Homo sapiens: one gene and its partners. The protein of the gene in region 1 interacts with the protein of each later gene in a pairwise test. Each region holds a gene or a part of one and is shown on either strand. Other genes may lie near its edges.

Region 1 (3,630 bases):
TACAGCTTGTGGAAGTTTTACAAGCTGTATTAAAGTTGGAGCCCTGAGCAAGTTGGATCCCTGCTCTTGGCTGAGTAGGAGAAATAAATCCCTTCAGTTTGTCCATGTCAGTGTCACGTAGATAAAATCACTCCCGTAATATAAGGGTGATGAAGGTACTCTGACAGACTCTGGGCAGCCTGTTGACAGTAATTTAAACTGTGGAAATGCATATGTGGAAGGACTTTGTTGAGGCCTGGGGTCTGTGATTAGGAAGATGGCCTTTTTTTGGTTCCAAGTCGGGAGTGATTTGCTCTTGCACATGCAGTCTTATTTTGAGTGGGGTGAGTTGGAAGGCACCACTCCAGGTGTTAAAGGTCGGGAGAGATTGTGTGGCAGTACCAGGAGGAGAAACTTGTGCTTTTGTTCCTGGGATCATGGGTATATGTTGGGAGAGTCAGTCCCCTTCTTGGCTGGGACTCTGTTTCTTAGATTTTTTGGTAATGGCCGGGGTCTTATTTCCTTTTTTTTGTTTGCGTTTGAGACAGTCTCACTCTGTTGCCCAGGCTGGAGTGCAGTGGTGCAATCTTGGCTCACTACAACCTCCGCCTCCTGGGTTCAAGCAATTCTCCTGCCCCAGCCTCCCGAGTAGCTGGGGTTACAGGCGTGTGCCATCATACCTGGCTAATTTCTGTATTTTTAGTAGAGATGGGGTTTCACTGTGTTGGCCAGGCTGGTCTCAAACTCCTGACCTCAAATGATCCGCCTGCCTCGGCCTCCCAAAGTGCTGGGATTACAGGCTTGGGCCACCTTGCCCCAGCCCAAGGCCTGATTTTCTTTTCCCTCTCTCCCTCTTTTTTTTTGTGAGGTGTGAGGGTTGGCGGGTTTCTCCCTCTGGTTCTCAGAGTCTGCTGCGCCTGCCCTGCCTGTGTGGTGCCCTGGTTCTAATGGCCTCCAGCAGGGATGGGCAGGTCTGGTTAAGGGAAAGTGATTTAATGACTAACTCTTGAAATGTATGGGTCAGTGTGTTTTGGTGTTGGCTGCAGGCCAGAGTGGTCAGAGGTGGTGGGCAGGGCACAGCAGGGTCCCGGGAAGCAGATTTTGAAGGCTTCTACAGTGTTTTCATTTGTATCTATTGCCTGTTAGCAGGCTTTAACAACTTCTAGTTAAGGTTTTATTAGCAGTGACATTCAGGTTTTCAGCCTCTGGTGATGACCTGGGGCTCTAAGGGTTGGAAGAGGAAGACATTTGGGGCCTTGTGGCACACTTCATTGTCTGTGGCTGAAAGGGTAACCTGGCTGCCTTGTTTTTTTATTATCCAGGGTTGTGTCTGAAGAGAAATCCCTCATGTTCATCAGGCCCAAGAAGTACATCGTGTCATCAGGCTCTGAGCCTCCCGAGTTGGGCTATGTGGACATCCGGACGCTGGCTGACAGCGTGTGTCGCTATGACCTCAATGACATGGATGCTGCATGGCTGGAACTGACCAATGAAGAATTTAAGGAGATGGGTGAGAGACCATGTATTCTATTATTTTATTAACCAATGATGAATAGAGACATTTTAGGCAGGTAGGTGAGTAGCAGAAAGCTCCTTATTGCCAGTTGCAGGCAGCTCCATCATAGCTTTAGTCAGTGAGAATCGCAGCCCTGCCTTAGATCTCAGCCTGTTTGGCTGTGTCAGATGTGCTGAGATGGTTTCAGAGTGGAAGCAAGGCTCCTCGGCTCAGGCACCAGGGATTCCCATCCCCGCTCTGATCTAACTCCCTCATTCACTTACCTTAAGGAAGCTGAAGTCCAGGGAAACGAAGTGACAAAAGGGCATGGCCCACAGTTACCTGCTCTAGTGTTTTTTTCCTGTGATGCCATTCGGATTCCTTCTTTAGCCGTGGTTTGCTGCTTCTCTAAATGAACACTCTTCCAGGCATGCTCCCCATTTCCAAGCACATCATGTGTGTTTTAACTTGAGCGATTTTCCTTATGTCATGCTGCAAACCTGGAGTTCTTTTTCCCTCCGTTTATCTCTGTCCTGGCTTTCCTTCAGTGAAGCCTGACATTAGCTGTGTGCCCAGCCCTTCTCCACCTCTTTTCTGCAAGCTCATTTTAGCGTATGTAGACGTTGGAGCATCTCATGGTGTTGAGACTGGGATGGCGTATAGGTCTCATCTCACATGCCAGTCCTGATTGCTAAGGGTTGCCTTGAGGGTCTTGATGAACAAGACAGTGGAGTCAAGTCTGGGCTCAGTGTGAAAAACTGTGAGGATTAATTAGCTTTTGTGCTGTAGGTACACGGTGGGGAGGTGGTGGCAAGGGCCATGTATTGTAATCTAGGACATAGTAAATAATCACAAGATCGGCCGGGCTTGTTGGCTCATGTCTGTAATCCCAGCACTTTGGGAAGCCAAGGTGGGCAGATCACCTGAGGTCAGGACTTCAAGACCAGCCTGGCAAACATGGTGAAACCCCGTCTCTACTAAAAATACAAAAATTAGCTAGGCGTCGTGGTGGGTATCTGTGGTCCCAGCCACTCAGGAGGCTGAGGCAGAAGAATCACTTGAGGTGATTCTTCTCAAGTCACTTGAGGGGGTGGAGGTTTCCTTGAGCCGGGATTGTGCCACTGCATTCCCACCTGGGCAACAGAGCCAGACTCCATCTCAAAAAAAAAAAAAAATCACAAGATTTTTGTCATGGTGGATTTCACAGCCTTGAAGGGCCAAGACCTTTTGCGTCTTTCCAGGGAACGTAGCATAGGGTGTGGCTTGCAGTAGATGCTTGTCCTGCCATTAGGCTCACCACCTGTTGAATGGGAGTGATAATGTAGACTGAGCTGAGCATGGTGTTGTCTTCTACTCGCTCAGTTACTCAAGTGTTTTTATAGACAAAATAGACTTCCTTCTTCTTGGTCCTGCTTTAGGTATTAATGGCCAAAACATTAGCAGGCCACAAGGTGGTTTTATGGCATGAGTTCAGGAGTTCTCAGAGATCTTTTGGAATTGAATACTAAATTTTAGCTTCACAGATGATACAGTTTCTGCTGTGTTGTAAGCACATTATAAAGACCAGTGTAATACACTTGACTGGAATCTAGGTGTCCTGTGTTAAGTCAGAGGACTCAGCCCAAAGACTCTTCGCATTTATGAATGGTTTAAATAATAAGAACTGGGCTAATCCATATTTGAAGATACTGTTGAATACATTGGCAAGATTAATTTTGTAATTTTATAACATAAACGGAACGCATGCTTAAATATGTTTGTCTTAGCTGTTATTGGTCTTTTTTTCTTTCTTTTTTGAGATGAAGTCTCGCTCTGTGGCCCATGCTGGAGTGCAGGGGTGCAATCTCGGCTGACTGCAACCTCTACCTCCTGAGTTCAAGCGATTCTCCTGCCCCAGCCTCCCAAGTAGCTGGGATTATTGGCACCTGCCACCATGCCTGGCTAATTTTTGTATTTTTAGTAGAGACAGGATTTCGCCGTATTGGCCAGGTTGGTCGTGAACTCCTGACCTCAAATGATCTACCTGCAAAGTACTGGGATTATAGGCATGAGCCATCGCGCCTGGTGTTTCAGTCTTTTTTGCATTTGGTTAACTATGTTTTTCAACCTTGTAGAAGTAAGAGGATGAGGAGGGATAAACCATTTAAAAATATTTG
Region 2 (3,413 bases), on another chromosome or scaffold:
CCCGTCTCTACTAAAGATAGAAAAATTAGCTGGGTGTGGTGGTACTCACCTGTAATCCTCAGCTACTCGGGAGGCTGAGATGGGAGAATTGCTTAAACCTGGGAGGCAGAGTTTGCAGTGAGCCTAGATCATGCCATTGCACTCTACCTTAGGCAACAGAGCAAGACCCTGTTTCAAAAAAAAATAAAAAGAATATAATGTAGAATAATTAAATCAAGCTAGTTAACATATTCATTACCTCAAATACTTGACATTGTTTGTAGTGATAGGTTGGAGTTTTAAATCTGTGTATATCCAGGGGCAGGGGGTGAGAGGGCAATGCCGAAAGCTGAAAACCACCTTGAAGGAAAATGGTCATTTTCTGCCTTTGCTTCTTCTGTTGGGCGTTCCTTGATTATTCAAGTTGGGAGGGAAAACTAAAAAGTGTGTGTACATCAGTAAGGCGTCATTTCCCACACTAAAGCACTTTATTCAACAAACATTAAATTCCTATTATGTGCCAGCCATTCTTCTAGACGGTAGGACCGTATCAGGTGACAGAACAAAGTCCTGCCCTTGTGGACCTTTCCGTCTCATAAGGGAAGCCAGACAGTTTCTCCTTCCTGTGGTGGAAAGAGCTCTGGAGAAGAGTCAAGGTGAGGAGAATAGGGAGTATTGGGCAGCATGTACTCAAGAAGGCCTCGCAGATAAGGTAACATTTGAGAAAGCCCTGAAGGAAGTGAGGGGATGAGTAATGTGAATATCTGGGGAAGAGAACTTCTACATGGAGAGCACAGCGAAGGGCAAAGGCCAGGCAGGAACATACCTGGTGGATTGGAGGAGCAGCATGGGAGGCCTGTGTGACTGGAGCTGAAGGAGTGACGGGGAAGAGTTGTTGGAGGTGAGGTCGGAGATTTAGCTGAAACCAAGACCATGCATGCATGGCTTCTTGGAAGTTGAAAAGTACTGTGGTGTGAATAGTTGTTTCTCCCTAAAGTCTTTGTTGAAATCCTAACTCCTGAGATGATGGTGTTAGGAGGTGTGGCCATTTGGGAGATGAGTAGGTCATGAGGGCAGAGCCCTTTAAATGGGGTTAGTGCCCTTACCCAAGAGCACAGCACCGCACTGGAAATGAAGGATGCCCCTGCTGTGGTGTGCATAGGGTTTCTTTGCCCCCTGGCAGGTCTCATGTTGAAATTTGGTACCCCCAGACCCCCCCAACCCCCGCAAAAAAATTTGATCCCCAGTGTTGAAGGTGGGGCCTGGTGGGAGATGTTTGGATTATGGGGGCGGGTTTCTTGTGTATGGCTTGGTACCATTCTCATGGGAGTGAGTTCTCATGCTTTGTTTCTTCACTGACTGGCTGTTGAAAAGAGCCTGGCACCTCCTCTCTCATTTCCTCTCTGGCCACATGATTTCTGTACAGGTGGCTCCCCTTCGCCTTCCACCACGAATGCAAGCAGCCAGAAACCCTCTCCAGAAGCAGATGCTGCACCATGCTTGTATAGCCTGCAGACCTGTGGGCCAAACAAACCTCTTTTCTTCATAAATTACCCAGCCTCAGGTATTCCTTTAGAGCAACACAAACAGACTAAGACACCCGTGGAGACAGAGGCCTCCCAAGGTTCTTCTGCACTCACAGGACCAATCCTGCCACGCCTCTGACCATACTGAATTGCAGAGGCCTGGGTAACTGCCCTTAAAACTTTATAAGCTAGGATCATACTTATCCCCAAATAATTGTGGTAGAATTGGTGTCTGGGGGCATCCCTCATTTCAGGTATTGTGTTGGTTTTCTACTTGGTTTTCTACTTGTATTTGAAGCTACCACGAATTGGTCTTCACAGCATCTTGTTTGGACACTAATGATTGGATTCAGGGCCCACCCTAATATAATATGATCTCATCTTAACTTAGTTACATCTGCAAAGATCCTCTTTCCAAATTACCAGAGATTAGAACTTCAGCATATCTTTTTGTCAAATTCAGTTCAACCCACAACAGGTGCCTTGTTCTGGGTTTGATTATGATGAGAGTCTTCTGGGCTTAAATATGCTTGGGGACTGAGACAGGAATTATTGAAATACAGTTAGAAAGGTCCACTATGTTAGGGATGTCCTGTCCTGTTGGAATTTTTTCTTTTAAGAAATGTCTACTACGTTTATTTAAACTAATTAAAAATTTAAAGATGAAGGCAGTATCGTGGCACATGCCTCTAAGGCAAGAGGATTGCTGGAGCCCAGGAGTTTGAGGCCAGCCTGGGCAATATAACAAGACCCCATTTCTAGAAACAAAACAAAAATATAGATAGATATGTTAATTTGCATCATTGTTTGGAAACCTGAAGACTTTAGGATATGCAGTGGTAAAATTCATCAAAGTGTTAGAAAGCAGAGATTTTACAGAAGAAGGAATTTTTAAAGCTGAGAGGTATAGCCTGAGTTTGGCTGGGGAGTCTGGGTGGGAGGGCAGAAGAGCTCTTGCTGATGTTCCAAGTTGATGGTTTTGCCAGCTGTGGCAGCAAGTTGGCAGAGATTGAATGCAACAGACCAGAGTCCCTGGGCCCTGGCGGACTTTTGTAGGAGGAGAAGTGGGCTTATTCCATTCGCCTTTCCCCTGCATTCACATGGGGTCCACAGGGTGCCCAGGTGGTGTATGGCACCGAGCTATTGCTCCCCTCTTTGTGACACCCAGTGGACATACATTCTTTAGTGTGTGTCAGGGCTTACTAGTATTTGCCTTTTTTCAGCTCACCACAGTTAAAGTCTAAGAGTTGTTTATCGGCCTGGCACGGTGGCTCACCCCTGTAATCCCAACACTTTGGGAGGCCGAGGCGGGCAGATCACGAGGTCAGGAGTTTGAGACCAGCTTGGCTAACACAGTGAAACCCCATCTCTACTAAAAATAGAAAAAATTAGCCAGCGTGGTGGTGTGTGCCTGTAATCCCAACTACTTGGGAGGCTGAGGCGGGAGAATCGTGTGAACCCGGGAGGCGGAGGTTGCAGTGAGCCGAGATGGCGCCATTGCACTCCAGCCTGGGCAACAGTGCGAGATTCCGTCTCAAAAAAAAAAAAAAGAGTTGTTTATCAAAGGAAGTTTAAATTCCCACTCTGATATCACAGTGATAGGACTGTATTTGGTTTAGCAATGTAATTAAAATTCCTTAGCAGCAGTATGCATTTGCAGGCATTGGATTGAATGGTTATCATGGTCACCATGAGTTGGAGTTTTGCTCTTGTTGCCCAGGCTGGAGTGCGATGGCATGGCCTTGGCTCACTGCAGCCTCCGCCTCCTGGGTTCAAGTGATTCTCCTGCCTCAGCCCCTAAGTAGCTGGGATTACAGGTGCCCCCACCACACCTGTCTAATTTTTTTGTAGAGACAGGGTTTTGCCATGTTGGCCAGGCTGGTCTTAAACTCCTGGCCTCAGGTGATC
Region 3 (3,630 bases), on another chromosome or scaffold:
ATCTTGGTAAGCCACAGTTTTGTCATCTGTAAAATGGGTTGGTGAAACTTCCCCAGAGTTGTGAGGCTTAAAGTATGTAAAACGCCTAACACGTAGGCACTCAATAAGTATTACCTTAGAAATCTTCCTATCCAGTTTTTCTGAATGGTCTGGAAGCACCTTGTATGTAGTGGACTACAGCATGTTATCCTTTATGTTGTTTATTTCTTTTCTCATTAGCTATGAACTTTTTAAGGCCAGGAATTCCTAGTGTTTACCAGAGAATGTGTTACTAGATGTCTTAGTCTGTTCTGGCTGCTATTACAAAACACCACAGACAGCATGGCTTATAAACAACAGAAGTTTATTTCTCACGGTTCTGGGGGCTGAGAAGTCCAAGATCAAGGTACCAACAAATTTGACATCTTAGTGAGGGCCCTCTTCCCTTGTTCATAGATAGCTAGCTGTCTTTTCACCATTACCTCATGTAGTAGAAGAGTAGACGGGGCTCTATAGGGCCTCTTTTATAGAGGCATTAATTCCATTAATGATGGCAAAGCTTCCCAAAGGCCCCACCTCTTAATACTATCACCTTGGAGGTTAGGCTTTCAACATGAATTTTGGGGGACACATTCAGACCACAGCACTAGAGCAGGCATGAATTGGTTATTGGTAAATCAGTAAATGATCAACTAACATTTATTAGGTTCCTCCTGTGGCTTCTATGAGCTGAGCTAAGTACAGGACCCACAAAGACAAGAAAGATGTCTGTCTTTTTTGAATGCTTATAGTTGAGTGACTTTCTCACATTTGTGTGTGTGTGTGTGTGTGTGTGTGTGTAAAACCCTATCACATAATGGAACTTCATTTTCCCATGCCCTTCCAATCTAAGAGCAGTTCTATGGACTCAATACCTCCTACCCACCAGCTGCTACTGTAAAGATTTACTTTTTTACTCCTTTTAAAAAGTTCAACCCTCTGGCACATGCATTACTTCATTCCTTGGTCCCAGCCCACCACCCCAGTATCTGGCACGTAGTGTATTAGTATTTGTGTGTGTGTGTGTGTGTGTGTGTGTGTGTGTGTGTGTGTGTGTGTGTGTATGTATATAGAATTTAAAATTTTTACTCCGGCAGTTGTCTTCAAATACTCTAATTTTGGGGGGCATGATTATCATTCTGTCTTCTGGCAGTACATGGATAGATGCTACCTGAGTAGGATTGTCTATGAGGTCAGCTGCTCCAGTCATTTTATACAAGAGGAAATTGGAGTGCAAAGCTTTAAAATGATTTTCTTAAAGTCACCCAGGTGTCAGAACCAGAACCAGAGTCCATGTCTCTAGTTCAGGACTCTGCACACATTGGCACATGTTCTGTCCTACCTTTTGGGATGAATAGTTATACTTGCTTTGTGATTACTCACCCACCTTTTTGGAGACATATGAGTGTTTTGTACACTATTAATAGAAGGCAGCCTTCACAAAATGCCATCTGCAGATCTGTTATTTCTTCTAATAAAGGAAATGATGTAAAATTACCTTAAATAGAAATAGTGTTAATTCTTCTGGAGACATATTCCATAATCCAAACACGAAATGTTTGAAATACTTGAAGATGCCATATAAATAAGTCCTTTGTAAAAAGATAATATTAAAAATTTTTGTTTTATAGAGATGGGGGTCTCACTGTGTTGCCCAGGCTGGTCTTGAACTCCTCAGCTTTTACTTTAGCTTCCCAGTGTGTTGGGATTACAGGCATGAGCCACAATACCTGGCCAAGTCCTTTTTTTTAATCAAATGACTTATTAATACACAGTTTCTTTGCCAGCTTTTGTTTTCATTTGCTATCAAAAATGTTGCTTAGTAGTGCTTTGATCTGAGTTATCAATAACAGGTAAATGCCATTATGGATAATAATTCAAAAAGAAGCTTATTAATTATTAGGCCTATCTGAGAGTGAAGTAAAGTTAGCATTTTCTTTTTGTTTATTTTACTTATTGTTTATTTGTTTAGAGACAGGGTCTCGCTGTGTTGCCCAAGTTGGAGTGCAGTGGTGCTGTCATAACTCATTGCAGTCTCAGGCTGGAGTGATCCTCCCATCTCACCCTCCTGAGTAGGTGGGATTAGCATATGCCACCATGCCTGGCTAATTTTTTTATTTTTTAATTTTTTTGTGGAGATGGGGTCTTGCCGTGTTCAGGTTGGTTTCAAACTCCTGGTCTCAAGCGGCTTGGCCTCCCAAGGTGCTAGGATTACAGGTGTGAGCTACCATGCCCAGCTGAGCATTTTTAAAAAATACTGGTCTTTGTACATGAGTCGTTACTATTTGATTCTAAGCCTTATGACTGATATCCCTAAAAATTATTTATAAAATTTTAAGTGCATCAGAGTCATTGAAATGGAATGAGCACTGTCTTTTGGTCTTGAGGTTGTTTTAACTAGCTTCGTAATGGTCATGAGCAGGTTATTTAGCTTTTGAAGCCTTCGTTCCTTCTTTTGTCAAATGAAAGTGATAGTTGCTTTGTTTTAAAAGAGTATGCTTTTCAAACGTGATCATTCTTGAAAATGTAGATTAAGAGCTTTTTAGAGGCCAAGTGCCATGGCTCACGCCTGTCATCCCAGCACTTTGGGAAGCCGAGGCGGGCGGATCACGAGATCAGGAGATCGAGACCATCCTGGCCAACACGGTGAAACCTCATCTCTACTAAAATACAAAAAAAAAATTAGCCGGACGTGGTGGCGCATGCCTGTAGTCCCAACTACTCAGGAGGCTGAGGCAGGGGAAACGCTTGAACACGGGAGGCGGAGGTTGCAGTGAGCCAAGATCATGCTACTGCCTGGCGACAGAGTGAGACTGCCTCTCAAAGAAAAAAAAAAAAACTTTTTAGAAACGTTGTTTTGGGGAATTTTTAGTGTGTGAATTCATTTTAAATATGTGAACTCCATTTGACATGGACAATGGATCTTAATAGTTTGTGATACATTATTCAGTGTATTAATCAAAAGTCAAATCTCTTTTGTAATTTGCTGTACCAGACCTGTTGTGTTAATCTGATCAATGGCAAGTGAATCATAAGATTGACCTGAAAGGAAAAGATATTTTTAGGGGACATAGAATCATATTGGATAAGATTATTCCTATAGTTCATTTTCAGGAAATCTGAACAGGAATCTCGTGTAAGGAATCACATGTGAATTATAGAAGAGAGTCTGATGTAAGACTTTATTTATTAAGGTCTGCATCTGTGTTTCAAGTAAGAGCATAGAGGTAGTATATGAGCCCTGAACACTCATACAAGTAGGATAAAATTTTTCTTAAAACTGTTGGCTGGACAGTGTAGAGTCTAATGCTGTGACTCTTAACAGTTTTGTGTGTTCCAGAAGTTCATCTCCTCAGGATCAATTGAGGTTAGTCTAGCACAGACTTTAGTTATAGAAACCAAACATGAGAAAAATTTTTTGACCCATGTCTTCGTAGCATGCAGGCTTGGTAGCTCTTTCCTAGTTCTGGATGTGTGCCCGTTGTATATACTTTCAGCAATTCAGGATGTTCCTTTTCATATTTAAGACAAGCACTCTTGCATACAAATTACATAGCTGTGGGCTGAATGAAGATGCTACCATTGCTGTACTTCTACACAGGTTCTTTTCAT
Region 4 (3,630 bases), on another chromosome or scaffold:
TGTGGGGTAACAACCCGAGTTCATGTTGTGGGCATCTCATGCAGTGTAGTAGCTGGTCACTGTCAAGTGTCACTATTTCATTGAGTCAGAAGCCTGCAGAATTGTTCTCATTCCAGGGAGTGAGTCAGTCTGCTGTTGCTTACTCTCGGTGCTGGCTGAGCTCAGCAACCTGCTCTCTTCCTTCAGTTCAGGTTTCTCCAGGGCAAAGAAGTCTTTATTGTTCCTTTCTGTATGACCAGATGGGAAATGAATTATAATATAGTCCTTAGATTATATTCCCACCTGGTAGCAATGCACTGAGTTACCTGACCTGAAATTTGTTGGACTTAGTCTCCATGGAGGAGGATTTACCATCTTCGTTGTCTCAGAAGTCCTGGTAGTGCCTCATGCCAGCAATTTAGCAGGAGCAAAAGCTTTGAGACAGTGTTCTGGATCTGCTGAGCTGGTCTAAAGGAACCTCTTTTGCTTGAAGTAACTGTGATAGGAACTTTGTTACTGCTTCTGTTAGCTCAGGTGTTGGAATGAGAATCAGCAGCTGATGAGGTGAACAGCTAGGAGTACTGGAATTATGGAGTAGTGGAGGTAGATTTTATAAACAGAGGGTCCCAGTTTTTTGGAAATGGGAAAGAGAGAGGGTAGACTGGCCTTTCTAGAATTTGTAACAGAAAAGAGGACCCAGGAGCTTCCATTGACTAGTTAGTTAATGCAGTGCGGGATCTTAGCTGGTTTGCTTGGTCCAATTCCTGTCTCTCGGTTTCTTTTTTCCCTTCCCTTCGCTGCCTTCCCCTCCCTCTTCCCTTTTTCTTTCCAAGAGAATTGAGTCACTCCATATAAAAGAAGCAGCCAGTTGGCTAAAAAGTCCAACAAAAAACAAGTATTTATAGCTCTCCAAATTTCCCACTTGTCATTATCAGTATACTTTTGCACACAGTTATAGTCGGTGTTTGGGATCCTTTTTAAAAAAATAAAAAGTTTCTGTAGGCTTTTCCATGCATGAACACAGCTTATCAACTTGCCCCGGCTGTGCCAGGATTCCATTGTTGACTGTTGTTTGAGCAGTCATGCCCTTTGTTCTTAGGCTGTGTGTTGTTTTTTTCCTAACATCATAGTATGGCTGGGTATTATTTTGATACAGATTACAATTACTATTACTATTTCTTGAAGTGTATTTCCCAGAGTGGAATATTTTAGGATCTTTTTTTCTCTTTTGTGGGGGTGGGGAACATGTAGCTTCTTGTGGATATTAGACATTGAAGTCTAAAAAGGTTCTATATTTATGATTTGGCCCTCAATTTTCTAGAGATTCCAATGGTTCCTGCAAAGAAAAGAGCATTCAAGTATAGAAACCAGCCAGACTAAGTCTGGACATGTAGCTTTTCAGAAAGTGAAAAAAAATTATGTTTCTGCAGTTGCAAGGTGGCCTCTGAATGCCACACTGTGTGGCCACTCCCTTGGACAGTGGCTAGGCCACAGGGTCGCCTCCCCTGGCCCCAGTCTGTGGGTTGAATATGCTAACCGAGCCTTCCCAGGAGCCTCCTCTGCCCCCAGCCCCCAGGTCTGTACAGATGGTAGTTGGTACTTTCAGCCCGCCTTGAGAACTCAGTATTCTTCCTGTTAGCTTTCCTTCAAAGTAAAATCGGTAGAACCTATTTTGAGTGTAGAAAATTTGAAGTCGTGGACAGCAGATTACAAAAAATTGCCCACCACCATGCCTGGCTCATTTTTGTATTTCTAGTAGAGATGGGCTTTCACCATGTTGGCCAGGCTGGTCTCGAACTGCTGACCTCAGGTGATCTGCCCACCTCGGCCTCCCTAAATGCTGGGATTATAGGTGCGAACCACTGTGCCTGGCTCCTTTTTGTATTTTTCGGAGAAGCACAAGGACTTGTTGTTTAATTAAGCAAGACTATACTCTCCCAGAGCATGCAGTTATTATTGAGTAAAACACAGTTAATGAGATTTAATCACGTTCCCTATCACTGTTGTGCAGCATGATAAGTAGGTGCAAATGGCAAGAAGCACGCTGAAGTTACTGCAGTTGGTAACCTGGGCCATGGATGGCACTTGTCTTTGCCTCATTTTGCCTGTAAGAAGCATGGGGCCTGTGGTCCTGGGGTACCTGGACCCTCAGCCTGGTGTGTGTGTGCCCTCAGCCTGGTCCTTTACTTCCATCACCCATCTAGAGGCTCCAGGACCCTTTACTGCACCCCTCCCTCCTCTAGATAGCTCAGTGTTTTCATCCCAGCACCTTTTTCTCTGCTGCCTGAGAACTGAGCAGCCAGAGACAAATTTTGGCTCTCAGGGTCCTCAAGGGTGTACAGCAAAGCTGTTCTTATTATTTAAAGTATTTTATTTATTTATTTTTGAGACAGAGTCTTACTTTGTCGGCCAGGCTGGAGTGCAGTGGCATGATCTCGACTCACTGCAACCTCTGTCTCCCAGGCTCAAGAAATCCTCCTACATCAGCCTCCCAAGTAGCTGGGATTACAGGCTGGAGTGCAGTGGCTCCATCTCGGCTCACTGCAACCTCCGCCTCCCAGGTTCAAGCGATTCTCCTGCCTCAGCCTCCTGAGTAGCTGGGATTACAGGTGTGTGCCACCATGCCTGGCTAATTTTTGTATTTTTAGTAGAGACAGGGTTTTACCATGTTGGCCAGGCCGGTCTCGGACTCCTGACCTCCTGATCTGCCCACCTCGGCCTCCCAAAGTGTTGGGATTACAGGCGTGAGCCACCGCGCCCGGCTAGCAAAGCTGTACTTTTACCAAAAAAAAAAAAGAAAACATTTATAAATCAAGGTCTGAAGGCCCATGTGAGGCTTATTCTACAGCTTGCAATGCCTGTTTTTGCCCCTTGGTAAGTGGACGCACAGCTGGGCAGCCTTATGCTATCTCTGTGAACTACCCATTTCTGGCTTTGTTCATAATATTCCCTTGATCTGGAGGCCCTCCCCCAGCCCTGCCCCAAATCCTGTCTGTGTTGAGGGTCCTGCCCCAGGAAGCCCTCTGCATACTCTTCCCTGCATGTAATACCTGCCTGCTTTCACATTCTTCTAGACTGTGCTGTGCATCGTACAGTTCATCAGCATTATTGCAGAGTAGAGTGTCTCTGATTTGGAGTCAAGAGAAGGTTCCATTTTTCTGTACATCCCGATGTTTATTTTCTGAGTGTTCTCAGACATCACTAAGCCTCAGTCAAAATAAAGTATGATCATGATGTAACATTCATTGAGTGCTTATCACATGGTAGGCATTGTGCTATATGAGTTATTGCTTGACTTCCTAAAATAATCCCAGTAGAGATGCTAAATCTAAAGGTGAGAGAGATGGTTCAAAAAGACCTCAGTGAGCAAACCATGTACTATAATATCCTAAAAGATAACAAAAATGTAACTAGGTATCTAGAGAAAACTCAGGAAGGATATGTGCCTTGGGCCTTTTAAGGACCATTTCTTAACACTTCTGTGTTCTTCTTGACACCTGTTTCTGGGTAGAGCACATAGAAAATGCTCAGTAAATAAGTTCTTTTTCCTTGGCCCAGTTTGGCCTGATTTGGCCCCAGTTCTGTCTTTGTGAGTTACTTTATTAGTTGTCGGTGCTACTGTGCTGCTATTCATGTGGAAGATTCCCCAAA

Evidence for each region.
Region 2: the proteins of JADE1 (region 1) and PFDN1 interact in a two-hybrid assay, tested with the Homo sapiens proteins (one large-scale study listed by BioGRID and IntAct).
Region 3: the proteins of JADE1 (region 1) and UBE3A interact in a two-hybrid assay, tested with the Homo sapiens proteins (3 studies listed by BioGRID and IntAct).
Region 4: the proteins of JADE1 (region 1) and HMOX2 interact in a two-hybrid assay, tested with the Homo sapiens proteins (one large-scale study listed by BioGRID and IntAct).

Annotation. Positions count from the first base shown.
Region 1 is NC_000004.12:128,847,679-128,851,308, forward strand, and holds part of JADE1 (protein Jade-1), read left to right. Parts: intron 1-1,301; coding exon 1,302-1,489; intron 1,490-3,630.
Region 2 is NC_000005.10:140,247,715-140,251,127, reverse strand, and holds part of PFDN1 (prefoldin subunit 1), read left to right. Parts: intron 1-3,413. UniProt on the Homo sapiens protein: Binds specifically to cytosolic chaperonin (c-CPN) and transfers target proteins to it. Binds to nascent polypeptide chain and promotes folding in an environment in which there are many competing pathways for nonnative proteins.
Region 3 is NC_000015.10:25,432,421-25,436,050, reverse strand, and holds part of UBE3A (ubiquitin-protein ligase E3A), read left to right. Parts: intron 1-3,630. UniProt on the Homo sapiens protein: E3 ubiquitin-protein ligase which accepts ubiquitin from an E2 ubiquitin-conjugating enzyme in the form of a thioester and transfers it to its substrates.
Region 4 is NC_000016.10:4,500,372-4,504,001, forward strand, and holds part of HMOX2 (heme oxygenase 2), read left to right. Parts: intron 1-2,372; exon of another isoform or gene 2,373-2,588; intron 2,589-3,630.